Homo sapiens: one gene and its partners. The protein of the gene in region 4 interacts with the protein of the main gene of each other region in a pairwise test. Each region holds a gene or a part of one and is shown on either strand. Other genes may lie near its edges.

Region 1 (3,500 bases), on a different chromosome or scaffold from region 4:
CCCAAAGTGCTGGGGTTACAGGCGTGAGCCACTGCACCCGGCCCTACTTCCAGTGTTTTTCTATTCTTTCCCTTTCCTTTGTTTCCTTCTTGGAAAGTGTTTTTAAAGCTTTTTTAAAAAACCTACGTCATTTTTCTGAAATAGTCTTTATTTTGTAAATAAAATTTATTTTCAAGTATAAAAATAACACTTATAAAAAAACTTGAGAAATACTGGCAATTAGGAAAAATAGGGGAATGAATTGCTTTTGTCTTCAACATTTTTATAAATTTTTTTCATCTTTTCCTATATCTAGTTATTTTGTTTGCTTGTTTGAAAAAAATCAAATTTTGAAATTTTTTATATTTTAATATGTTGATAATTTATTAAACAAGGCACTTTAGCTCTTATTCATAACTACTAAGGGAAAAAGATAGCCAGTACTGAGTTAGTATTAAAGCTTAATTGCAGTGAACTGTTTTGTCTACTGTATATATCAAGAATATTAGAATTTATATCTATCTATTTAGTAACATGATTTTACATGTGATAACTTCTACATCATTGTCGCTAATACAGACTTTGGAAAGAAACAACACTGATTTTAGACATAAAGTTTATAGAGCAGGCTTGTGAGCAGGAACTTAAGAGTCCCCTAGCAGAATACCTAGTGACATTTGGGACTGGATGCTGCTGCTAGTTTTCTGATAAGTGAAAAAAAAATCTTCTGTGATCTTTTCAGATTTTTCTTCTTTTTTGGTTTGGGGGCTTCCTCCATTCACAAAAGATCTGACTTTTTATTAAACAGTATGTCAGTGATTTAAAATCACTTTGCTCCCACCTTAGAGCCTTTACAGCATCTACAGCTGGAGCCACCAGCTGGGTAATAACCATAAATCAATGCATGTCATACACTGTGGATGGAGCATCTGGCCACAGATACTCACCATTACTGACGGGCATCTGAAATGCCAGCTAGAAATGTGAAGGGTGTAGTTTGTAGGCATTCGTGACACATCCGAAGGTGTAGAGGTTAAATGCCAGCAGCCCTGCCATAGCTCCTTGGCTGTTTCCTTCGGCCCGTGCATTCATTCGACATGTGCATGCTGAGCCAGGCTCTGAGCTGTAGTGCCGGGGAACACAGCAGTGAACAAAATGGACAAAGTCCATGTTCTCATGAAGCTTTCATTCCAGTGAGGAAAGATTATGAACATATATGCAAATAAATATAGAATGTGTCCAGCAGTGATGAATGCAGTAAAGTTTTTAAAAGGCAAGGTAATGGGTTTGAGAGTGTTGGGGTGTGCTCTTTTATGGAAGGGTCAGGGAAGGGCTCGCTGAGTAGGTAGCGTTTGAGCAGAGACGAGGTAAATGAACCATGAGGCTATCTGAGGGAAGAGTGTTGCAGGGAGAGAGAACTTCTGGGTGCCAGGACCCAGAGGAGGGGTGTGTTCACTGTTCACAAGGAACAGCAAGGAGGCTGGAACAGAGTGAGCCAGAAGAAGTACGGTCGGCACAGGCCAGTGGGCATGGTAGAGAGCTTAGCTTTTACTTGGAGTGAGATACTAGCCAGGGGAGGGTGTGGGCAGAGGAGGAACGTGATCTGACTTACGCATTTTTAAGGATTGCTCTGTGTGCCCTAGCAGTAATAAACTCCAGGCTGTGAGGGCAGAGGCAGGAAGAGCAGTCGGGAAGCTGTTACTGTGATGCGGTTTTACTGTGATGCAGTTGAGCGGCGCGGCGGTTTGGGAGTGGGATGATAGCAGTAGAGAAGGTGAGAAGTGGTTATACTGGTTGAACGGTAGGTTTTGCGGATGGGTTGCTGAGAGAAAATAAAGAGTCAAGGATAACGTTGGTATTTTTGGCCTGAGCAACCAGAAGAATGTGTTGCAATTACATGAGACAGGGAAGACTGAGGGAGGAGCAAGTTTTGCATGGAAGGCAAAGCATTGAACTTTGAACACGTTAATCCTCAATGACTATTACATATCTAAGTGGAGAGGTTGGGTAGGCGGTTAACCCTACAGGTGTGGAACTCAAGAGAAGAGACTGGCACCAGAGCTATAAATTAGAGTGTTGGGTGTTACCAAACTAGGTAAGGAGGGTGTTGAGAATATGCATGTCCATCACTTTCTGTTGAATTTACCATATTTTTTTGCATATCACTCTTGAACATGACAGGTGAGAGATAAGTGGGTTGTACAGCCCAGTGGGCTCAAAGCCAGGGACCAGAGGGAACTTCCAGTTTTAAACACCCCAGGAGATTCTGGGACCATTCTTTGAGAAGCACCCTGAAGACACCTTCTGTTTTCCTCTTTCATCTTTGACAAGTCACACCTCTCCAAGTTTGTGATTCTCTAATGATTCCTAGCATGCCCTAGATGAGATGAATGGGTCCTCTCAGCACTCTTTCAGCCTGTACTTCTAAGATTTACCAAATACATGAATGGAAGGACAGAAAAGCAATTAAAAAATCAATGTGCCATTTGTAAGTGCTTCAAATTCAGTCTCATAACCATGAAGTAAAACCACTGTCACCATACATGCCTCTGTTAACATTTGGTAGTAATTAACACCTGCCTTACCTTGAGAATGATCTTTATAGTTTATGAGGTTAGCACTTTGATTTATGTCACAGTGTTTTCTGACAGGCTCAGTTATTCTTGCAGTGGGCTGGCTTCCTTCCTGGAGAGGTCCCTTTCCCATAGTGTGTTCCTATCTGCTATATACCATCAGATGTATTGAAAAATTGTTAACAGTTAATTATATTAGAAGTTTATCAATTGGTGTTTATGAATCACCAAGCATTTTATGTACTGCATCCTCATAAATAAAGCCCTAAGATGACACTCGCTTTTGGAGTTGGCACTACAAGATGCATGAGAAATACAGTTGATCCTAGAACAACACAGGTTTGAACTGCATGGGGTCCACATATATGTGGATTTTCCTCCACCTTTGCCACCCCTGAGAGAAGACCAACCCCTCCTCTTGCTCCTCCTCCTCAGCCTACTTGATGTGAAGACAATGAGGATGAAGACCTTTATGGTGATCCACTTCCACTTAATAGTAAATATATTTTCTCTTCTTTATGATTTTCTTAATGACATTTCTTTTCTCTAGCTTGCTGTATTGTAAGAATACAGTATATAATACATATGGCATACAAAATATGTGTTAATCAACTGCTTATGTTATTCATAAGGCTTTCAGTCAACAGTAAGCTATTAGTAAGTTTTTGAGGAGTCAAAGTTATACACAGATTTTCAACTGCACAGGGGGTCTGTTTCCCTAACTCCCAAGTTGTTCAGGGGTCAACTAAGTAGTCAAATGAGATCATGTGTACAGAAAAAAAAAAAAAGTGAAACCAAAATGCTATGTAAATCTGGTTTATTCTAATAGCCACTTGTCTTGGGGACAGTATCACCATGAGTTAGTCTGGCCAGAGTCACCTGCTAGTCCGCTTTATCAGTGTAGACTTCCTGTGTGTGGATCTGAAAGTCTAGAGAACAGCATTTCCC
Region 2 (4,114 bases), on a different chromosome or scaffold from region 4:
GGTGATCCACCTGCCTCGGCCTCCCAAAGTGCTGGGATAACAAGCGTGAGCCACCACGCCTAGCTCCCTCAGTCTTTCTTAGTCTTTCATGACTCTGACATTTTTCAATATACAGTCCCTTTAAAGAAATAGTGTTTCTCAATTTGGGCTTGTCTGATGTTTTTTCATTTTAAAAATTAAAAAAAAAATTTTTTTTTTTGAGTTGGGGTCTTGCTTTGTCACCCAGCCTGGAGTGCAGTGGCACGAACATGGCTCACTGCAGCCTCGACTTCCCAGGCTAAGGCGATCCTTCCTACCTCAGCCTCCCAAGTAGCTGGGACTGTGGACGCACACCACTACACCCGGCTATTTTTTTTTAAAATTTTTTATTTTTTTGGTATTTTTGTAGCAATGGGGTTTCACCATGTTGCCCAGGCTGGTCACAAACTTCTGGGCTTGGATGATCCTCCTGTCTTGGCCTCCCAGTGTTAGGATTACAGGTGCGAGCCACCGCGTCTGGCTGATGTCTTCTCATGATGAGATTCCGGTTGTGCCTTCCTGGCTGGAATGCCACATAGATGATGCTGTGACCTGCGAAGACCTTCACATCTGGAGGCACACGACACCCTCCTGCCTCTCACAGGTGATTTATTTTAACCCCTTGGTCAAGATGTCTGATTCCTCTACTGTATAGTTACTCTTTTTCCTTTTGTTACTAATAAGCAATCTATCAAGAGATGCTTCGTGACCGTGCTGACACCCTCCCCCCTCACTGAAGTCTTCCCCCCAGATTTAGCCCCCACTGATGAGTTTTGCACACAGGCTGTCTTCTTGTAGGCAGCCCCCTCTGCTACCTTTGTTTTTCCGGGAAGGACCTTAGATCCTGGGTAGGTGCTCATCCTGCCTGGCAGTCGAGTGCAATGCTGCTGTCCTGGCCAATGCCCAGCCTTCCTCATTTGCCCCGGCTTCAAGGCATTGGTTCACAGTCCCGTACGGGCAGCTAGACCATCTCACAGCAAGCAGCACTCTGGGAGGCTCATCTCATTTCCTGCCCTGGAAGCTTCCCTTCCTCACTGCAGCCACTGAAGCTGCAGGCTAGATCAAGGGGACCACAGAGTTGTCCAGTCCCCAGGGTGGGGGTGCCAGGAGCCCTTGTCCTCCGTAGCAGGTCTCAGAGGCTGACGATGGGGAAATCGCACTGGTGAAGCTGCCGTGGGGTCAGGAGGAACCTGCGATAAGACGCCCAACAGTTAGGGCAGGTGCTTTGAGGTTTGGAGCCTGGGACCCCACAGGAAGTGACTTCGTGCTGAGCTAATGTTGCTTCATCCTGGCGCCAGTCTCAGGCCAAGAGCTGCAGGCTGGCATGGCTGGGGGGATGTCAGCGGAGTGCCCTGAGCCTGGGCCAGGAGGTCTGCAGGGCCAGTCCCCAGGGCCAGGCAGGCAGTGTCCCCCTCCCATCACGCCCACCTCCTGGAGCCTGCCCCCGTGGAGGGCCTACGTGGCTGCCGCCGTCCTCTGCTACATCAACCTCCTGAATTACATGAACTGGTTCATCATTGCAGGTGAGGAGGGGATGGCTACCCTGGGCAGTACCTGCTGCTGTGCCCACCAGCCAGGGGCTGCAGATCCATGGTGGCCTTCCAGCCATCACCCATCTTTCTGCTCCTGGGCCCATCTCTGGTGTTCTCACCTCTAGAGGTGGTTTTCAGCTGTGCTCGAATCGGGGAGGACCAACTGATGTTCCCAATCCAGCCTCAACTAAGAAGGGACACAGGCTGGGCATGGTGGCTCCCGCTTGTAATTCCAGCACTTTGGGAGGCTGAGGCAGGAAGATTGCTTGAGCCCAGGAGTTTGAGACCAACCTGGACAACATAGTGAGACTCTGTCTCTATTTATTTATTTTTTTTTTTGAGACAGAGTCTCGCTCTGTCGCCCAGGCTGGAGTGTAGTGGCGCAATCTCAGCTCACTGCAACCTCTGTCTCCCAGGTTCAAGTGATTCTCCTGCCTCAGCCTCCCGAGTAGCTGGGATTACAGGCGTGCACCACCACATCCGGCTAATTTTTGTATTTTGAGTAGAGGAGGAGTAGGGACGGGGTTTTACCATGCTAGTCAGGCTGGTCTCGAACTCCTGACCTCAGGTGATCCACCCGCCTCGGCCTCCCAAAGTGCTGGGATTACAGGCATGAGCCACCGTGCCCGGCCTTTTTTTTTTTTCTTGAGACAGAGTCTCAATCTGTTGCCCAGGCTGGAGTGCAGTGGCGCGATCTCGGCTCACTGCAACTTCTGCCTCCCAGGTTCAAGCGATTCCTATCTCAGCCTCCCGAGTAGCTGGGACTACAGGCGCATACCACCATGCCAGGCTAGTTTTTGTATTTTTAGTAGAGACGGGGTTTTGCCGTGTATGCCAGGCTGTCTCGAACTCCAGACCTCAGGTGATCCGCCTGCCTCGGCCTCCCAAAGTGTTGGGATTATAGGCATGAGCCCCTGCGCCCAGCCGAAACTCTGTCTCTATTTAAAAAATTAAAAATATTTTAGGGCTGGGTGCGGTGGCTCAGGCCTGTAATCCCAGCACTGTGGGAGGCCAAGGTGGGCGGATCACTTGAAGTGAGGACTTTGTGACCAGCCTGGGCAACATGGTGAAACCCCGTCTCTACTAAAACTACAAAAATTAGCCGAGCATGGTAGCGGGCACCTGTAATCTCAGCTACTGGGGAGGCTGAGGCAGAGAATTGCTTGAACCTGGGAGGTGGATGTTGCAGTGAGCCGAGATCCCACCATTGAGCCAAGATCCCACCATTGCACTCCAGTCTGGGCGACAGAGCAAGGCTCTGTCTCAAAAAAAAAAAAATAAAAAATAAAAAATAAATAAATAAATAAATATTTTTTAAAAATTAAGGGAGGGCACAGTGGGGGTGGGGCCAGAGACATAATGAGGGGTGGGTGGGTGAGGACAGCAGGCAGGACTTCCAGGCAGAGGCCCCCAGGTTCTAGGTGGAGGACAGGGTAGCCTGGGCCAGACAAGAATAGCTCCTGCTGGCTGTGTTTCTAGGACAACAGGCTGCTCGCAAACCTCACACGTCCTGCCTTCCTTCTTGCAGGCTTCAGGGCTCAACCTGCTCTGTCTTCTGTCACTCATTCACTAACTCACTCACTCATTCATTCATTCAAGACTGATCAGGGGCCAGGCGTGGTGGCTCACGCCTGTAATCCCAGCTACTCGGGAGGCTGAGGCAGGACAGTCGCTTGAACCCGGGAGGCGGAGGTTGCGGTGAGCTGAGATCGTGCCACTGCACTCCAGCCTGGGCGACAGAGCGAGACTCCGTCTCAAACAAAGACAACAACAATAACAACAGCTGATTGAGGCTCCACTTGCTCTTCTCTTCTTGTCATTCATTCATTCAAGACCGGCTGAGCACTAACTGTGGGCAGGACCCCCTGCTGGCTGCTGTGGACCCAGGGAGGAAATCGGACTTGGAGTTCCTGAACTCAGGAATGACCATCTCATGGGGCAGAGATAGAGGCTGGTTGATGGCAGTCCTGCGAGGCGGAGAGGTGCGGCCAGACAAGGGGGAGGCACAGGCCGGGCTGGGAGCTCAGGAGGGTGCCTGCAGCTGCCAGGCATCTCTGAGACCTGGGCATCGATCTGTCAGTTACCAGCTCAGCATGCCAGAGAGTGGCTATGGAATCATGAAACTCTAGGGGCTGCAGAGCCATCCCCAGACCTGGTCATCGTCTTTGAGGAGCTCAGAGGTCAGGAGCTTCTCCTCACATGAGGTCAGGAGTTCGAGACCAGCCTGGGTAACATAGAAAAACCTTGTCTCTACAAAAAATTTAAAAAATTAGCCAGGGACAGTGATGTCTTCAGCCTCTCGGGAGGCTGAAGCAGGAGGATTGCTTGAGGCTGAAGCAGGAGGATTGCTTGAGGCTGAAGCGGGAGGATTGCTTGAGGCTGCGGTGAGCCCTCTAGCCTGAGTGACAGAGCAAGATCTTATCTAAACCCCTAAAGACAAAAAGCCAAAACAAAGCAAAACAAAACACATGAAACAAAAAACCCCAAAGGGGTGTATGGGGTGAGAACAGAGCTTCTTGGGTGCCAGACTGGGAGCTTGGACTTTCTGCCTTGGGCAATGGGGA
Region 3 (3,500 bases), on a different chromosome or scaffold from region 4:
TGGTGCAATCTTGGCTCACTGCAACCTCCATCTCCTGGGTTCAAGCGATTCTCCTGCCTCAGCCTCCTGAGTAGCTGGGATTACAGGTGCACGCCACCACGCCCGGCTAATTTTTTGTATTTTTAGTAGAGACGGGTTTTCACCATGTTGGCCAGGATGGTCTCGATCTCCTGAACTCGTGATCCAGCTGCCTCGGCCTCCCAAAGTGCTGGGATTACAGGCATGAGCTACCGTGCCTGGCCAATTTTTTTATTTTTTAAAGGCTTTCTGCTTTTTCTCTTTTGGATCTCATGCCCTGGGAAATTTTTTCAGTTCACTGAAACCCCCTTTAAAAAAAAATTATGTTTAGTCCTTGTGTTCACTTCCTTTCTTGTTGGCATGATCTTTGCTGAGAAAAATGTAAAATTTCTTTTTTCTTTGTCTTTTTTTTTTTTTTTTTTTTTTTTGAGACAGGGTCTCACTCTGTTGCCCAGGCTGGAGTGCAATGGTGAGATGTCACCTTACTGCAACCTTGACCTCCCGGGCTCAAGTATTCCACCTCAGCCTTCTGAGTAGCTGGGATTATAGGTGCACACCACCACGCCCGGCTAATTTTTGTATTTTTTGTAGAGATGGGGTTTCGCCATGTTGCACAGGCTGATCTTGAACTCCTGGGCTCAAGTGGTACATTTTCCCTCAGCCTCCCAAAGTGCTGGGACTATAGGCATGAACTACTGCACCCTGCCTTGAAAATGTAAAATTTCATTAGCCTTTTGGGGAAGCTTAAAATCTCTCCAAATTGGCTTCTCCAAAACTGGTTGTTCCATGTATTTCTACTTCTTCCTTTTGCCACCTTTGATAACCCTTAAAGGGGTCTAGATGGGACTTCTGACAACCCTGAGATCCCTTGAGGAAGACAAAAAAAAGGTGCCACTGGTTGGGCGCGGTGGCTCACGCCTATAATCCCAGCACTTTGGGAAGCTGAAGCAGGTGGATTACCTGAGGTCAGAAGTTTAAAATCAGCCTGGCCAACGTGGTGAAACCCCATCTCTACTAAAAATACAAAAAAAAAAAAAAAAAAAGGTGCCACTGACCCTCTCTTTTGGGGCCTCTCGTTTTCCTTATAGAGCCCCAAAAGTCACTAATGGGTTCATGTCAGGTTTAAAACTCTTCTCTCTTTTGAATTAAACTCTCTAGTCTTTGGCTTTTGTATCGATACATGTGTCTATATATGTATGTATATGTCTATACATGTGTTTATTGTGTATATGGTACCAATAACGAATGAGTACCCCCAAAAGTCAGGAGTCAACAAATGGAAATTCAAAACAAAACTTTTTCTTTTTTTTGAAACAGAGTCTTGCTCTATCGCCCAGGCTGGAGTGCTTTAGCATGATCTCTACTCACTGCAACCTCTGCCTCCAGATTAAGCGATTCTCATACCTCAACCTCCTGAGTAGCTGGGATCACAGGCGTGTGCCATCACACACGGCTAATTTTTGTATTTTAGTGGAGACAGTTTCACCACGTTAGTTAGGCTGATCTCGAACTTCTGGCCTCAAGCCATCCGCCCGCTTTGGCCTCCCACAGTGCTGGGATTACAGGCGTGAGCCATCGTGCCTGGCCTCAAACTAATTTTTATAAGTGTTTCTTTTTTTTCCTCTGAGTTAAAAGACTTGCATCTGCAATGGACTGTTACCTTACAAGGAATCGAACCCACGCTGCAGCAGCTAACCAGTTTATTGCCAGCCACTAGACCACAGATCATAGTGCCTTTTTGCAGGCCCTTCAGGGGATCCAAAACAAGCAGTTTGAGTGTACAAAGAATTTTAACTTGTGTTTTGAATCTGATTTCTGTCTTTTAAAAATCTTGCCAAGGGAGTTTCTAAGGCTGTGTTCTTTCTGTATCTTTTTATGGGTACTAGAAAGATAGCTGTTTTTTTTTTTTTTCCTCAGGCCAGGTACGGTGGCTGTAATCCTAGCACTTTGGGAGGCCAAGGCGTGTGGATTGCCTGAACTCAGGAGTTCGAGACCAGCCTGGGCAATACAGTGAAACCCCGTCTCTACTAACATACAAAATATTAGCCGGGTGTGGTGGTGTGTGCCTGCAATCCCAGCTACCTGGGAGGTTGAGGCAGGAGAATTGCTTGAACTGGGAGGCAGAGGTTGCAGTGAGCTGAGATAGTGCCACCGCACCCCAGCCTAGGTGACAGAGTGAGACTCCATCTCCAATCAATCAATCAATCAATGTTTTATTTAAATAAATAAATAAAGTTTTTTTTTTTTTTTTTTTTGAGATGGAGTTTTGCTCTTGTTGCCTAGGCTGGAGTGCAATGGCTCAGTCTCGGCTCACCACAACCTCAGCCTCCTGAGTAGCTGGGATTACAGGCATGTGCCACCATGCCCAGCTAATTTTGTATTTTTAGTAGACATGGGGTTTTTCCATGTTGGTCAGGCTGTTCTCAAGCTCCCAATCTCAGGTGATCCACCAGCCTCGGCCTCCCAAAGTGCTGGGATTACAGGTATAAGCCACTGTGCCTGGTCTAAAATGTTTTTTAAATAAAGCCAATTTACTTAGCGACTTAAGCCAATAAGCCTTCTTCATGGAAAGTCTCAGAGGTAATTTTCTAGGTTCAGAATACCAGATGATATAACCCTCACATTCCCCCAAAATATTTACTTTCAAAAATAGGCTAAGATAGCGAAAGACTCTTGTTTTCATAGACAGTTAAGGATGGTGTTTATGTGTGTGTTTCCTGTAGTATCCCACCAATACGTGGGGGGCTGCTAATCATAGACCTATTAATTTGAGACACCAGCTAGGCCCTCCCTGGATTGGACTTGCCCAGGACTAACCAGGCAATAAGAGTTGAGATTTCTTCCTTCTCACTGAAGTAATTTTATTTATTTATTTTTTAAATTAATTTTAAAAATTGAGGGGGGAGACAGGGTCTTGTTCTCTTACCCACGCTACAGTGCAGTGGCATGGTCGCAGTTCACTACAGCCTCAACCTGCTGCACTTAAGCCATCCTCCCACCTGAGCCTGTCAAGCAGATGGGAGTACAGGCACGTGCCAACATACATGCCCAGCTAATTTTTAAAAATCATTTGTGGAGAGGAGGTCTCACTGTGTTGCCCAGGCTGGTCTCGAACTCCTGAGCTCAAGCGATCCTCCCACCACAGCCTCCCAAAGTGCTAGGATTACAGGTGTGAGCCACCGCACCCAGCTTCAGTGAAGGAATTTTTTTAAAAGGAGAAGAAAAAGATAAAAGAGTTGAGACAATAAAATCAGGTGTGAGTCACTGCACCCGGCCCTCTTTCTCTTTTGAAAAGGCCTTGAAAGATGGCTCTCTCCTTCACCTTTTGTTGTGTCCTGTAACTTTTACTAATTATCTAAAGTAAGGGAGAAAAATTGTTTTTGAAAACAGGCAAATAAAGTATCTTTTGAACATGGCTTTTATTCTGCATGCCTGTTATATCTGTATCTTTATATGTGTCATATAGAAGTGATACTTTACTG
Region 4 (4,127 bases):
TTCCAATACAGCATAAAAATTTACCTAATAAATACTTCCTTAAAAAATCTGATACAAAATTAAACCACAAATTATCTTTACTGGTTAAAGCCTAAGGATAACTAATGCATTCAAGAGACAAATATGTGGTTGTTTTTTTTTTTATGTTTTTGTGGAGATACGGGTCTCACTATGTTGCCTAGGCTATTCTTGAACTTCTATGCTCAAGCAATCCTCCTGCCTCGGCCTCCCAAAGTGCTGGGATTACAGACATGAGCCACTGAGACCAGCCTTGTTTCAAACTTCACAGTACCCAAAGAATCACCTGGAGATAATGTTAAAATGCAAACGCCTTAGGACAACCCCAAGATTCTGACTCAGCAAGTTTGCGAAGGTGGACTAAGAATTTACATTTCCACAGGCTCCAGCTGATGCTGTCTGTGATGTTCCCATATGGCACACTCTGAGGAACAATGCACTAGGCTGTATAACTTACCTCAACTTTATATATAAGTTTTTGATATTCGTTTCTTAGTACATTGAGTTATCCAACCAGCAGTGAGTAGGGTAATTTTTACACAAATTTTCCTAGGAATGTAATGAAAACATTTTTTCCTTCACTCTAGTGTAATCATGTCAACACATGGCTGCTATGGAAAAATATGTAGCCTTAAAAACTCCAGGAAATTAAATTGAATTTCCAAATACATATATTCAGTCATATGTGAGATATGTATCAGTGAGCACTTAGAGTCATTTCACCATAAATATAATAATTTTTTATCATATAGTACCCAAAAGATTACTGAATTTGGCAAATGTTTACGTTCACTTTGTAACTTAAAATATTCTAAAGTCAATAGAAGATGGTAAAAGTATGAGATAAATAATGATTTGAAGAAAAACTCTTGAAGTATATGAAGACTGTAATTTTATTATGCCAGTTACCACGAGTTATCAGAGAACATGTAAAATCTTGATAACATGGTAAGTATTATTTGTGTCATAGAGTTGTTCCACCTTGGACACATACTTGTGGAAACATCTTTATCACTGCAATTATTTCTATGCCTGGTTTCCTCCAGCATGCTTTTCTGTCATCTGACTCACTCAGCGCTAGACTAACAGTGGGATTAACATGCAGTGGGTACAGTTGTTTCCTGGTTACTTTGTCTTCACAATCATCTATTGCAAAATCACTTTGTTACGGTTATTTTTATCATTTGTAGAGACAGATTTTGGGCATTACTTTTAGTTTCCATAATGTGATCTCATAATTGCCATTATTTAACAAAAACAAATGGGGGACTTCAGAGTGTTTAAATACATTGGCCCTCTAGGGTAGCACATCATCTCTTGAAGCTTCACTTCAACTTCACTACTTCTGTAGTCTCATCTTGAGTAAAAGGTAATATGTTCATGTATAATCGAATATGTTGTCTTAATCTAGAGTGTTGCTTCCTAAAATCTTTTGAAAACTAATTATAAAAATGTGTATTTATGTAATGATAATTTCTCATAAAGAAACAATTGAGAGAAATGATGACCTTCTTAGGATCTGAAGGTAAGTTGAGAATCTGAATAACTATACATTGAAATCAGCAATCATCATGCAAAGTAAATAATGTGGAATATGGAGACATATTCCAACTTCTCTCCTGATGGAACTTCTGAAAAGCTTTTTATTTCCTTGTCTACGTACTGGCATCTACTCTGCTACTTACTACTTTTACCTTTATTCGAAGTTCATATTTTAAGAAAATAGCATACGTTCTCTTTTTTGCAAATGTATATATTGTTTCACAAGTTTAACTTTTAAAAATTTACTTTTTTCCCATAAGTAAACATTTCTCACTACCTTTTCATTGACCTTTCCATCATTTTAAACAGTTATGTCATTCTGCATAATAAAAAATGTTGTATAACAGTCATGCTTTACTGCCTTACTGTTTTATATTACTTAAGTTGTTTTCATTCAGTTGTGATATGGCAGAAAACAAAGATTTTACTATTTCATATTTTTATTATTTTTCATTGGGGAAATATTTTTTTAAAACCATGACATATATATTTATATATCTATGTCTATATATCCATCTTTCAGTTTATCAAGGTTAGTAAAACAAAACTACTCTTCTATGAGCATTTTTTGATTCCATACTTTCAATAAAATTTACAGGTATAAAATACACTAAAGTTTTTATGCTTTTTGCATCATAAAATGACTGATGGGTAGGTTTATCTATCAGGTGATAGAAAAACCCCAAAGTACATATTATTTTTACACTTACTCTAATACCAGAAATTTCCTTTTTTTTTTTTTTTTTTTTTTAATTTGAGACAGAGTTTCGCTCTTGTTGCCCAGGCTGGAGTGCAATGGTGCAATCTCGGCTCACCGCAACCTCCACCTCCCGGGCTCAAGTGATTCTCCTGCCTCAGCTTCCTAAGTAGCTGGGATTATAGGCACTCACCACCATGCCCAGCTAAATTTTTATTATTATTATTTTTAGTAGAGACGGGGTTTCTCCATGTTGGTCAGGCTGGTCTTGAACTCCTGACCACAGGTGATCTGCCCACCTTGGCCTTCCAAAGTGCTGTGATTACAGGCATGAGCCACCACACCCGGCCAGAAATTTCAGTTTGAATAACTGAGGCAAATCAGTGAATAAGTAACAAAGCAAATGCCATAAATCATGAGTTCTGCTTTATGTTTTGGAGATTTGGGGTTATTAATAACAGTAATTTTTTTTATAATTAGGTAAAAAATATTCTTGTAATGTTTTATCACAAGTTATTGGTAAAAGAGATTAAAATAATGAAGACCATTACCTTTATATGAATTACTCTATAGTTTTCAATAAACAGGTAAAAATGTCATTTATTTGTAACTCTTGTGGCAATTATGTGTTTCACTGAAAATGTCTTTATTTAGATGTTTATAATTTACAAATAAATAATCTAACGTTTTTTGTTTAATAACAAAGGAACTGGGTTAACTGGCTTATACTGTTTATGATAACATATCACAGTCCCAGATAAGGTTAATTTTGTTGAATGAGATTATTTAAAATATTAAGTCATCTTCACCAATTCAACTTCTCAGAGGAGGTACGAATATTTTCTCTGTGACTTCTTATCAGTTTGATTGTTCTCTACCCAGTATCATTAATGTTCTAATCTGAAGGTGACCCCATTTTTGCAACTCTCAAGACAGAAATCTGGCTCATTTTCAGTAACATTATAAAGCGATTGCCCATTGCTGGTCATTCTAACATCCAAACATCTCTTTACACTGTACCTTAAATATCATCCCTAATGTCATTATTTAAGGCGCCCCATAATATCCAGTTCTATCTTCCCTACATTTTGAACTGTTCCAGTTTTATCTTCTGATAAACTGCTCCAGTTTTATCTTCCCTACATTTTGAACTGTTTGCACTTTCAATATGGTATCCTCCCTCTTTTTCATTTTCTTGCAGTCACCCAACACCTCTTTACTCATCCTGCATAATCCAACTCAAGCTTTACTTTCTTCTTTACCTTCATACCCCTATTCTCTTGGTCTGTGTAAGGTGTTGATTTGTGTGTTACTCTAATGCCTTAGCATTTCCATATCAATACACTCACTTTTACTTATCAGTGTCTCCAACAAGTCTCCAAGTTTCATGATGTCAGGCAATGGGTTTTAATTGTCTTTCTATCTGGAGTGTGTCTCCCAGTGCTTTGGAGCGTAGTATAATCAATAAACTTTTGATGGGCGAATGCAAGAAAAAATGTGATACTGAATTTCCACATATGTTTTCAGAGAACCCAGCCAACTATGAAGTTCCTTGTCTTTGCCTTCATCTTGGCTCTCATGGTTTCCATGATTGTAAGTATATCAGGACATTTGAAGAATATGTTCTCAGTACCTATCCCAAGAGTCTCTCTATTCCTTGTGTTCTGGCATATATTGGTGTTTACTTGAATACAGCTTTATATGTTTAAATGTTTCCATATGAACTTTTTTTTGTACTAACCTACATAAGCTATATAAGGATTTAGAATAAATAGTCATTATTCATCTACAGACACTAAAGTATATTTAGCTTAGTGTGAAATAAAAGAAAGTTTTACTGAACTTCTTAAATATGTGGAACTGAGAGCTT
Region 5 (2,907 bases), on a different chromosome or scaffold from region 4:
GAAACCCTGTCTCCGGCCGGGCGCGGTGGCTCACGCCTGTAATCCCAGCACTTTGGGAGGCCGAGGTGGGCGGATCAGGAGGTCAGGAGATGGAAACCATCCTGGCTAACATGGTGAAACCCCATCTCTACTAAAAATACAAAAATGAGCCGGGCGTGGTGGCGGGCACCTGTAGTCCCAGTTACTCGGGAGGCTGAGACAGGAGACTGGCGTGAACCCGGGAGGCGGAGCTTGCAGTGAGCCAAGTTCACGCCACTGCACTCCAGCCTGGGCGACAGAGCGAGACTCTGTCTCAAAAAAAAAAAAAAAAAAAAAAGAAACCTTGTCTCGTCTCTACCAAAAAAAAACAAAACAAAACAAAACAAAATTAGCTGGGCGTGGTGGCAGGTGCCTGTAATCCCAGCTACTTGGGAGGAGGGGAGGGCTGAGGCAGGAGGATCGCTCAAGCCCAGGAGGTCAAGGCTGCAGTGAGCTGTGACTGCACCACTGCACTCCAGCCTGGGCAACAGAGTGAGACCTCGTCTCAAAAAAAGTAGGTCACTGGAAGGGGTTGCAGACTTGGGGATCCCTAGAGCTGGAGTGGGGAGGCTGGGGGCTCCCACCCCTCCAGACTCTGCTGCCTTTTGGGACCTGGCAGAACTCTCCAGGGCTCTCTCCTCAGACAGCTAAGGGCAAGGGGAAGGAAAGGGGTGCTGGTGAATATTCCGGAGCTCCAGATGTGGTGGTGGGCTGGGCTTTTCTGATCTCAGTGCCATTACCCAGTGGCTTCTACAAGACATGCTTCCAAACACAGAGTCTCTCCCAACGATGCCCCCAGTGTTATTTGTCTCTGGGACAAAACTTCTTGATTAATACTTAATGACACTGTAAGGTGAGCCTGCAAAGCAACTGGGTAAGCAGTTTGGATAAAAAATGTCTCTGAGAACCACACTATAAAATAATTACTCTTGAAAGGCTGTGGAAACAGATAGCAACTCTTAGGACAGGTTCTTCACGGTGTTAACAGTCCACTCACCCAGGTATAACCGAACTGCTTCTAGAATCCCCATCAGAAACAGCAGAGCAAGATCGAGGACCAGGTAGCGGTGAGGATAGCTGAACACCTGACCTGAAGAGCAGAGGCGCGGACGGAACATAAGTAACCTGGCACAGCAGCAGCAGCCACCTCAGCTTGCCTTTTCCTTTTTTTTTTTTTTGAGACAGGGTCTTGCTCTGTCACCCAGGATGGAGTTCAGTGGCGCAATCTTGGCTCACTGGAACCTCCACCTCCCGGGTTCAAGCAATCCTCCCACCTCAGTCTCCCGAGTAGCTGGGACTACAGGCGCCCACCACCACGCCCGGCTACTTTTTGTGTTTTTAGTAGAGATGGGGTTTCCCCATGTTGGCCTGGCTGGTCTCAAACTCCTGACCTCAAGTGATCCGCCCACCTCAGCCTCCCAAAATGTTGGGATTACAGGCGTGAGCCACTGTGCCCGTCCCTGACTTACTTTTATACGTGATCATCAGGAGCGTGGCGAGGAAATACAGGGCGTAGTACGTTCCGCTGAGATAAAACAGCATTTGAAGGGGAACTGAAGAGAGCTGGTGAGTGGTTAAGGATCCTCAAGCTCAACAGGCTTGGGAGCAGCCTCCCAGGTGGCTGAACAAGAGGGGCTGGTTCTGTCATCTGTTTGGTGGCCACAGACACCAAGGGACCATGGAGTCTTGGCAATGGCTCACTGCCTATCTGAGGCTTCTGTCACTATGCTGGCTGCCAATGTGGTCCCATGAGCTGACAAGGCCTTTGTGGGACCCCCCTCCATGCCACAACAATGCGGTCTGTGCACTGCAGCCCCTGCCCTCCTGACTGTGGACAGGACTGGTCAGGGGACAGCCTCCACACACTGGCATCCCCAGTGATGTCACCCTGCCTTTGGCCCCAGTTATGAGTTAAGAGAGAAAAAATAACTTTGTCATTTTCTTTTTTTTTTTGAGATAGAGTCTTGCTCTGTTGCCCAGACTGGACACTGTGCAGTGGCACAATCTTGGCTCACTGCAACCTCCGCCTCCTGGGTTCAAGTGATTCTTCTGCCTCAGCCTCCTGAGTAGCTGGGATTACAGGCGTGCAAAACCATGCCCAGCTAATTTTTTGTATTTTTAGTAGGGACAGGGTTTCACCATGTTGGCCAGGCTGGTCTGAAACTCCTGGTGTCAAGTGATCTGTCCACCTCAGCCTCCCAGAGTGTTGGGATTACAGGCATGAGCCACTGCGCCCGGCCACTTTTTTCAGTTTCTTCAGAGGAAATATATTTCTGTTTGGGGGACTTAAGTATCTAGTAGCCATTTCCTGAGCTGTGTACATTTCCTATTTGTTTATGCTAACATGAGTCTATGGGGCCAGGCACAGTGGCTCCCGCCTGATGCCAGAGCTTCAGGAGGCTGAGGCTGCAGTGAGCTGTGATTGCCACACTCCAGCCTGGGTGAGAGGAAGGCTCTGTCCTTAAAAAAACATAAACAAACAAAAATAAAATAAAATGAATCTAGGGACAAAGTGAGGGATTTCCATCTTCCTGCCACTAGCGGCCGAGACAGAGGCAGGTGGCCATCGCCTTGGGAGCCGGCAGTGTGGCGTGCTTAGCCACTTTGTGCAGGGCTGAGCAGGTAGGGGATGGAGCCAGCAGAACTGATCCGAGGAAGTTACATCAACTCTCTAAATCTGTCAAGGAACACCCCCCTCTCCAAAGTGGAATTACTAGACAGAACTTAGGGAAAACGTGGGGTGAGGCCGAGTGCTCTCTGTGCAGCAGCAATTCGGGCCTCTGGGTGCTGTCCTGGAGGGGCACGCAGCAGGATACCACTGTGGAGGATCCTCTCCCTGAAAGAGAAAGGGGCCGTGAGCAAGGCCTGACAGCCACCAGGATGCTTTCC
Region 6 (3,962 bases), about 17 Mb from region 4:
TCTGTCACCCCTGAGAAGTGCTCAGAAAATGTTAGCTGTCTCCCTCCTCCCTTCCTCCTCAGCCTGACCACACCTCTGCATCATTCAAGCTGGGAACACCTTGCCTTCCAGAGACCTTTCCCGTTCCTCAGTGTCCATTCTCTGCAGGGCTCTGCGTAAATACGCCCTGTGCTGACTGACCCCTTATACGCAACCTCCAGGGAGGCTGGATGGCCAGAGCTGCCTTCAGGGTTTGTTTGCCAAAGGCAGTTTATTCTTTCTTCAAATAGTTAGAATTTACTTCACATTTGAATCTAACTTGTATTTTTATACAGTCAGCATGTCCTGAGCATTCTGTCATGGAGAAGAATTTGCTCATCCATGAATAAACAATGCATAGCTAGTATCCCTCTTGAGACAGGTAGAGGCGTTTATGAAGTGTGCCTTGTTACTAGCCTGTGCCCCACAAATAAACTTTCTGCTGTGAGAAGGGGTGTGGCACCTGCTTTTTCAGAGGTTTAGTTTCACAGAACCATACAGTCCTTGGGTTTTGCCAGCAGTGCCTGCTTAGAATGCACAGAGGGGCCCTGGGCACTGTGGTCAGAGGCTGTCCTCAGACCCCATCTCCATTTCAGACCAAGCTCTTTACCACATCCCCTTGCAGGATTCCCAGATGTCCCTAGGAGGCCAGGGGTATGTATCTCAAAGTAGACTCTTATCTCCAAAAGCAAGTGAGAGCTCCCTTGAATTATTTTGGGTGAAGGAATTAGTTTTCACATGTTTCATGAGACATAATTAGGTGCCTAATACCATATTATTCTCACAGGTGTTTAATTATTGACTTTAGACACAAATTCTAATAGAACTAGAAGAAAAACTGAGACAAATTCTGAAGCTCCTTGAAATTATTCTTAGTCCCTCCTGACATTTCCTCCACCGGCGTTTTTTTTCTTTTTGCTCTATTTCCAGCAGACACGCTTTGCTAATGCTACAAGGTGTGGCTTTGGCTTTGTTGTTTTTTCCGGAGTTAGCTTTTCTGTCTGTGCATCCTGGCTCTTTGAAATCCCAACTGAATTTGGAGAAATTATTTCTTGGCATCCACCCTACTTTCCAGGGACACAATGTGATGCTGACGACATAGCCCGGTCACTCCACTTGACAACAAGTTTGTTTGTCTCATCTCACATACATATTCAGTGGTGAGTAAGAACAGAAGTGGAAAGCCTTACTTACCACAGTTTATTATATGTTTCATGCCTGTGATAATTACTTTTATAATGCCACTTGTGAAAAAATTGATCAGATTAGGATGAATCACCTTGCTGGCCAACAGTTATTGGAATGATTCTCCATGTGTGACTTCGTTGCACTATTACAAAATGTGGCAGGATAGACCTGCCCAGCCATTGTTGCCGATGTTCATTTGTAATGCTGCCTTAAGGAGATGAGGAGATGAGAGCCAATTGTTCCAGCAGCTCAGCCTGCCCTGCCAACAGTTCAGAGGAGGAGCTGCCAGTGGGACTGGAGGTGCATGGAAACCTGGAGCTCGTTTTCACAGTGGTGTCCACTGTGATGATGGGGCTGCTCATGTTCTCTTTGGGATGTTCCGTGGAGATCCGGAAGCTGTGGTCGCACATCAGGAGACCCTGGGGCATTGCTGTGGGACTGCTCTGCCAGTTTGGGCTCATGCCTTTTACAGCTTATCTCCTGGCCATTAGCTTTTCTCTGAAGCCAGTCCAAGCTATTGCTGTTCTCATCATGGGCTGCTGCCCGGGGGGCACCATCTCTAACATTTTCACCTTCTGGGTTGATGGAGATATGGATCTCAGGTAAGTAACCCCAGGGAAGCTCAGCAGTCTGTCTCTTATCCTGCCTAGGGGGAATAACTGAAACTCTTGTGTTAAACACTCTTCTAATCTTTTGGTAGAGATTCTAGTGGGAAATGTTACAAATATCACAGAGACTTGTTCAGCCATGGGTGGGCTTTCCTTTCAGTGCTCAAAAGTTACTTTGCTGATGATCATTTTCTTTATTGGCTACTGTTCTGAGCAGTGGGATGCGTTCTGAGCAGTGGAGGCAGGTCTGCACCTCACCCAGTGGCCCTTCCTAAGCTTGAGCTCATTCTTACCTACACTGGCCTCTTTAGCAACTCCTAGGACTTAAACCAAGAATCCCAAGAAGCTAACGATTGTGGTTTGGTAGCAGCCGTCGTGGTTGTGTCAGTGGCATAGTCAGAATGAGACTCCCGTAGCTCCAGTCAGTGATGCCTGAGCACCTACTTTAGGAAAGAAGCACTTTAGAGGACTGGATAAAGGAGCTTTAGGGGTGTCTGGTGGCCATATCCAGCTTTAAGTGCTGAGATGGCTTGTCGATTTGACTTCAGGAGCAATGCGAAGGCTCTCAGGACTAAAATTGTTCTTTCTTGTTGCTTTGCAGATCGTTAACATCATCACTAGATTCGCATTCCTTCCCTTTAAGCCAGTGACCTTATTCCCAATTATGGTGTAGATAAATACCTCTGGGAGACATTAAGCCTTGTCCCTTATTTACACTTTAATGAGGATGAATTAGTCACATGCTTTTCTGGATTACATGTTTTGATGGGGGAAAAAAAGAGCATTTGAGGAAAGAGTAGAGGGATAGCACTGGAAAAAGAGCTAAAAACAATGGTCTCTCGAGACTCTTTGCTTACTTGTGAACATGCCGTTTCACTTCCTGCCCTGGGGAAGAACTGCTTATAAATTTAAGTATTTGTTTCATGTGTATGTCATTTAGTTGAGATTCACTTTACCATGAATGAATGAATCAGAGGTAATGACTGAGCTGGGAGTTGACATCAGTGAGAGTCAGCTGCAGGTATGTGTTTCCAGTTTTCCGCTTGTGCTGAATGTTTAGCGTATGGAACATATTTCACCTATAAATTTTAATGGGCTCATACCATGCAGAATAGGAACTAACTTTCCCAAGGCAGTGTTTTTGTTTACCCACTTATGAGAGATTTGAAAAAAAAATAACTTGATGAATTTTGTGTTTTACCTTAATGGTAAAAGCCACTCATATACAAAGCCACTAATATACACTGCTTTTGTGTTTTACCTTAATGGTAAAAGCCATTAATATACATTGCTAATTCAAATTCAGTAAAGTTGATTATTTAACTGGGAAATGATAGATATTCTTTGCATGAAGTTCATAAATCAGAGATAAATTCCAGGACCTAAAAGTTTTTGGAAAGAAAAAGGAAACTAATATTTATTAAGTGCCCCATAGGCATGGGATAGATGCTTTCATGCTTATTTTCTTCTTGGGGCTCATAATAACCTTGTAAATGGCCTTTTATTGTTCTGAATTTTACAGCTGAGAAAATTGTGATTCAGATTGGTTAAGTAGCTTGCCAAATGCTACAAACCAGTATGGCAGAACTCAGATTTGAATTCTCATCTGTTTTACATCAGTCTGCAGTTTAGGCACATTTCCCCCATGGCATTTAGCAACACAACTAGATCTTCTGTTTTGAATAGCAGCATAAATCTTCAGTGTTCTCAAACACTTGTGTTCTGGGAAAGAGAACATTTATTACCTTAATCTCTTATTAGTCAATGTTGTCATAAAAACACCAATGAACAGGAAACCTATGAAAGATAAAGCTACTTTTACTTTCTTTTGCCAACTCTTATCTTTAATTCACCTTTAACTTTGTTCAAATTATTTAACCTATCTAAGCCTTATCTCATCATTGGCAAAATGGGGTTAAATTTACCTATTTCTCACAAGACTGTATATATATGTATATATATGTACACACACTCAAACACACACACACATATATAGATAATAGTTTGGGGTGGAGTTTCACTCTTGTCGCCCAGGCTGGAGTGCAATGGTGCGATCTCGGCTCGCTGCAACCTCCACCTCCTGGGTTCAAGTGATTCTCCTGCCTCAGCCTCCTGAGTAGCTGGGAATACAGGTACCCGTACCCACCA
Region 7 (3,500 bases), on a different chromosome or scaffold from region 4:
CAGGCATGGGCCACCACGCCCAGCAGGGGATCTGCTTTTAAAGGGCTCACTCATAGGGCTGTTGGCAGGATGCCTCAGTGCCTCACCACATGGGCCTCTCAGTAGGGTTGCTTGTGTGTCCTTGTATCACGGCAACTGGCTTCCCCCACTTGGATCTTGCAAGTGAGCTGAGAGAACAAAGTAGAAACCATAACCTTTGGCCAGGCATGGTGGCTCACGCCTGTAGTCCCAGCACTTTTGGAGGCTGAGGCAGTTGGATCACCTGAAGTCAGGAGTTCAAGACCAGCCTGGCCAACATGGTAAAACCCCATCTCTACTAAAAAATACAAAAAAAAAAAAATTAGCCGGGTGTGGTGGTGGGCACCTGTAATCCTAGCTACTCAGGAGGCTGAGGCAGGAGAATCACTTGAACCAGAGAGGCAGAGGTTGCAGTGAGCCGAGATCACGCCACTGCACTCCAGCTTAGGCAACAAGAGTGAAACTCTGTCTCAACAACAACAACAAAAAAACGTGTAACCTTTTTTATGACCCAGCCTCAGAAGTTGTACACCATCATTTCTGCAATATACTAGTGCTTACACAGGTCAGCCTTACTCATTGTGGGAGAGGACTACATAAGGGTGTGAATACTAGGAAGTGGGGATCATTGAGGACATCTTGGAAACTAGCTTCCACAGAGTAAGGTCAGGATTTGCAGGAAAGAGGAATCTCAGGTTTGGGGTATGTTAAATTTGGGGTTCCTATTTTATACTCTGGTGATATTAAGAGGCAATTAGATGTACCAGTCTAGAATTTAGAGGAGTTATCAGCAGGTACAGGGTAGTTTAAACAACTGGACTAAGAAAACCTGGGGAGTCAATGTAGGTAGAGGATAGGTCTACGGCCTGTACCCTGGGTATCTCCAATATTTAAAAGTCAGGACAGGAAGGAAGATTGGGACGGATTAGCCATTGACGTAGAAGAACCAAGAGGTGTCCCAAAAGCCAAGTGGAGAGAGTTTCAAGAAGAGAGAGTGAGCAGTTGTATCAGAAGCTACTGATAGTCCAGTAAAATGAGGAGTGAGAATTGACCATTGAAATTAGCAACAAAGAGATTCCTGGAGACTTTGAAAGGAACAATTTTGATACTGTTGAGGATGAAAATCGGATCAAAGAGCAAAAAAGGAAGTGGAGACATTACCTATAGGTGACTTGGGAGTTTCACTGTAAGGGAGAGCTGAGAAATGGAGTGGGATCTGAAGGAGAAAGTGGTGAGATGGTGGGTTTGGTGGTGAGAGCAAGTGAAGTTCTGTTGCTTCTCTTTTCTTAGTGGAAATTGAAAGCAAGGACATTAGCTAAGTGAAGAAATAGGAGGGGGTTTTGGGAGCCTAAGGAGAGAGGAGAAGGTCTAAGTCACCTTAGAGAGTGGGAGAGTGAACTGATTAGAGAAATGAAGTGGAATTGCCAGGCAGTCCTAAAGGAGCTTCAGGAAAGAAGTAGGTACAGAGAGTTGAATGGAACCAGGGTGTGGGTTTTGCTGGATTTGTAAATGAAAGACGAGAGGAACAGGGAGTTGTGGTTATGTGCAAGAGAATAATTACAGTGGACCATGGGATTTCAGGAGGGAAGTGAGGACGTGATAGTGTCAGCAGTGTCAAAGAATTGGTGGATTTCGGGTACTAAATAGTGAACTTGGAAAATAAGGGTAAGTAGTTGAAGACTCAGACACTTGAAGTTGAATTTTGGAAGATTTGCAGTTATTGGCAGTGACAGGATCTAGGTATGAGTATGAAAATGGGTAGCTGAGGTGAGATGGCAAAATCAAAAGATTATCATGAGTCGGGAGGTCAGTATTCATTATTGAAATCACCAGTTATGATGGGGTGATTAGAGTGAGGCAAGGAGCCGGTGCAGAGGGAGAGGTGTGAGGAGAAGCACCATGGCAAGAGGTTAGTGGCATACACGTTGGAATTAGCTGAAATCTGTTTCCTCGGTTGCATTGGGCAAAGTCACTTCTCATCAGTGAGCCTCAACATCTTCTCAGTAAAACAGGGATAATTACCGCCACCCTCAAAGAGTCATTGTGGGGATGAAATGAGATGATGGTTGTGAAGTACAGTGATCTGTACACAGCTAATGTTCAGTATTTACTGTTGACTGTTTTCTTACTGTTTCTTTTATTAAAAGAATTGATATGTGTGTAGAAGTGCTTAATGCCTGACCCGTAGCATGTACTATATGAATATTAGTTATTATAACTTTTATTATCCCTAAGCAAAGGGCTTGTGCAGACTGGAGCCACCGATTTCACTGTGTCTGGCCCCAGCTGATGCCTCTGCTTCTCCCCTCCCCTTAGAGCTTGGGAAAGTCGAGGTGACGGTGTTTGACCCTGACTCCCTGGACCCTGATCGCTGTGAGAGCTGCTATGGTGCTGAGGCAGAAGATATCAAGTGAGCTGGCGGGGAGCGGGAGCAGGGTTCCCATCAGGCGCCATCTGTCAGTCAGCCTCAGCCTCAGTCAGACTGTGGCAGGTGGGGAGGTCAGACCAAGAATCTAGAGTGGGCGGGGTATGTGCCTCTGTCATTGATCCTGGTGCAAGCGACTGAGGCTTTGTAACCAGGCCCTATCTGGGAGCTGCAGACCTAGAGATGAAGCTGAAGTGGTCTCTGCTCTTCCACCTAGAGAAATGGTTCAGAGGTGGTCTCTGGAGTCCAGTTACCTGGGTTCTACCCGTTTCCTTGGGCCAAGCCATGTAACCTCTCTATGTGAAGAGGGATGATAATAACATCTTCTCGTAAGAGTCACATATGGATTAGCTGTATACTGTGTGTAAAGCACTGAGGTGGAAGGCCCAGCCCAGATTATTAGACCCTCAGTATCTGATAACTGCTGCTGTTTCCCAGACCCTGACTTCTGCAAGACTGATTCAGCAGGTCTGGAGTGGGGCCTGGGAATGTGTACTTAAATTTTTTTTTATTGTGGGAAAATATGTGACATAAAATTTACCATTTTAACTATTTTTAAGTGTGCAACTCAGTGGCATTAGGTATCTTCACAGTGTCATGCAGTCACCACTCTCTGTCCTAAAACTTGTCATCGCCTCAAACAGAATGGGAATATGTATTTTTCACAGTCCTAGTCTGGGCACAATGGCTTACACCTGTAATCCGTAGCACTTTGGGAGGCCGAGGTAGGTGAATCACTTGAGCTCAGGAGTTTGAGACCAGCCTGGGCAACATAGCAAGACCCTATCTCTAAAAAAATTTTAAAAATTAAAAAAAGAAAACAGTCCTTCTGCCACTGAGGAAACACATTTGGAGAATGTTTGGTGGTCAGGGATGAGGCTAGCAGAGCCTTCATTAGCAGGCAGAGCTGCTCGGGCTCTATTTCCCCAGATGCCAGCACTGGACTTATGCCTCTTTAACACTCTCACCGTCACTCCCTGCCCTACAGGTGCTGTAACACCTGTGAAGATGTGCGGGAGGCATATCGCCGTAGAGGCTGGGCCTTCAAGAACCCAGA

What was found.
Region 1: the proteins of STATH (region 4) and MTIF3 interact in binary tests that used the Homo sapiens proteins (3 or more experiments, as listed by UniProt).
Region 2: the proteins of STATH (region 4) and SPNS3 interact in binary tests that used the Homo sapiens proteins (3 or more experiments, as listed by UniProt).
Region 3: the proteins of STATH (region 4) and TMX2 interact in binary tests that used the Homo sapiens proteins (3 or more experiments, as listed by UniProt).
Region 5: the proteins of STATH (region 4) and TMEM80 interact in binary tests that used the Homo sapiens proteins (3 or more experiments, as listed by UniProt).
Region 6: the proteins of STATH (region 4) and SLC10A6 interact in binary tests that used the Homo sapiens proteins (3 or more experiments, as listed by UniProt).
Region 7: the proteins of STATH (region 4) and ERGIC3 interact in binary tests that used the Homo sapiens proteins (3 or more experiments, as listed by UniProt).

What each region holds. Positions count from the first base shown.
Region 1 is NC_000013.11:27,440,565-27,444,064, reverse strand, and holds part of MTIF3 (translation initiation factor IF-3, mitochondrial), read left to right. Parts: intron 1-2,822; exon of another isoform or gene 2,823-3,048; intron 3,049-3,500. UniProt on the Homo sapiens protein: IF-3 binds to the 28S ribosomal subunit and shifts the equilibrium between 55S ribosomes and their 39S and 28S subunits in favor of the free subunits, thus enhancing the availability of 28S subunits on which protein synthesis initiation begins.
Region 2 is NC_000017.11:4,432,626-4,436,739, forward strand, and holds the start of SPNS3 (protein spinster homolog 3), read left to right. Parts: upstream 1-1,314; 5' UTR 1,315-1,342; coding exon 1,343-1,541; intron 1,542-4,114. UniProt on the Homo sapiens protein: Sphingolipid transporter.
Region 3 is NC_000011.10:57,719,093-57,722,592, forward strand, and holds part of TMX2 (thioredoxin-related transmembrane protein 2 isoform 1 precursor), read left to right. Parts: intron 1-3,500.
Region 4 is NC_000004.12:69,994,639-69,998,765, forward strand, and holds the start of STATH (statherin isoform a precursor), read left to right. Parts: upstream 1-1,327; 5' UTR 1,328-1,387; intron 1,388-3,784; 5' UTR 3,785-3,799; coding exon 3,800-3,850; intron 3,851-4,127. UniProt on the Homo sapiens protein: Salivary protein that stabilizes saliva supersaturated with calcium salts by inhibiting the precipitation of calcium phosphate salts. It also modulates hydroxyapatite crystal formation on the tooth surface.
Region 5 is NC_000011.10:698,816-701,722, reverse strand, and holds part of TMEM80 (transmembrane protein 80), read right to left. Parts: intron 2,855-2,907; coding exon 2,835-2,854; intron 1,582-2,834; coding exon 1,488-1,581; intron 1,109-1,487; coding exon 1,016-1,108; intron 1-1,015.
Region 6 is NC_000004.12:86,846,585-86,850,546, reverse strand, and holds the start of SLC10A6 (sodium-dependent organic anion transporter), read left to right. Parts: upstream 1-1,162; 5' UTR 1,163-1,431; coding exon 1,432-1,808; intron 1,809-3,962. UniProt on the Homo sapiens protein: Transports sulfoconjugated steroid hormones from the extracellular compartment into the cytosol in a sodium-dependent manner without hydrolysis.
Region 7 is NC_000020.11:35,545,078-35,548,577, forward strand, and holds part of ERGIC3 (endoplasmic reticulum-Golgi intermediate compartment protein 3), read left to right. Parts: intron 1-2,334; coding exon 2,335-2,428; intron 2,429-3,431; coding exon 3,432-3,500. UniProt on the Homo sapiens protein: Possible role in transport between endoplasmic reticulum and Golgi. Positively regulates trafficking of the secretory proteins SERPINA1/alpha1-antitrypsin and HP/haptoglobin.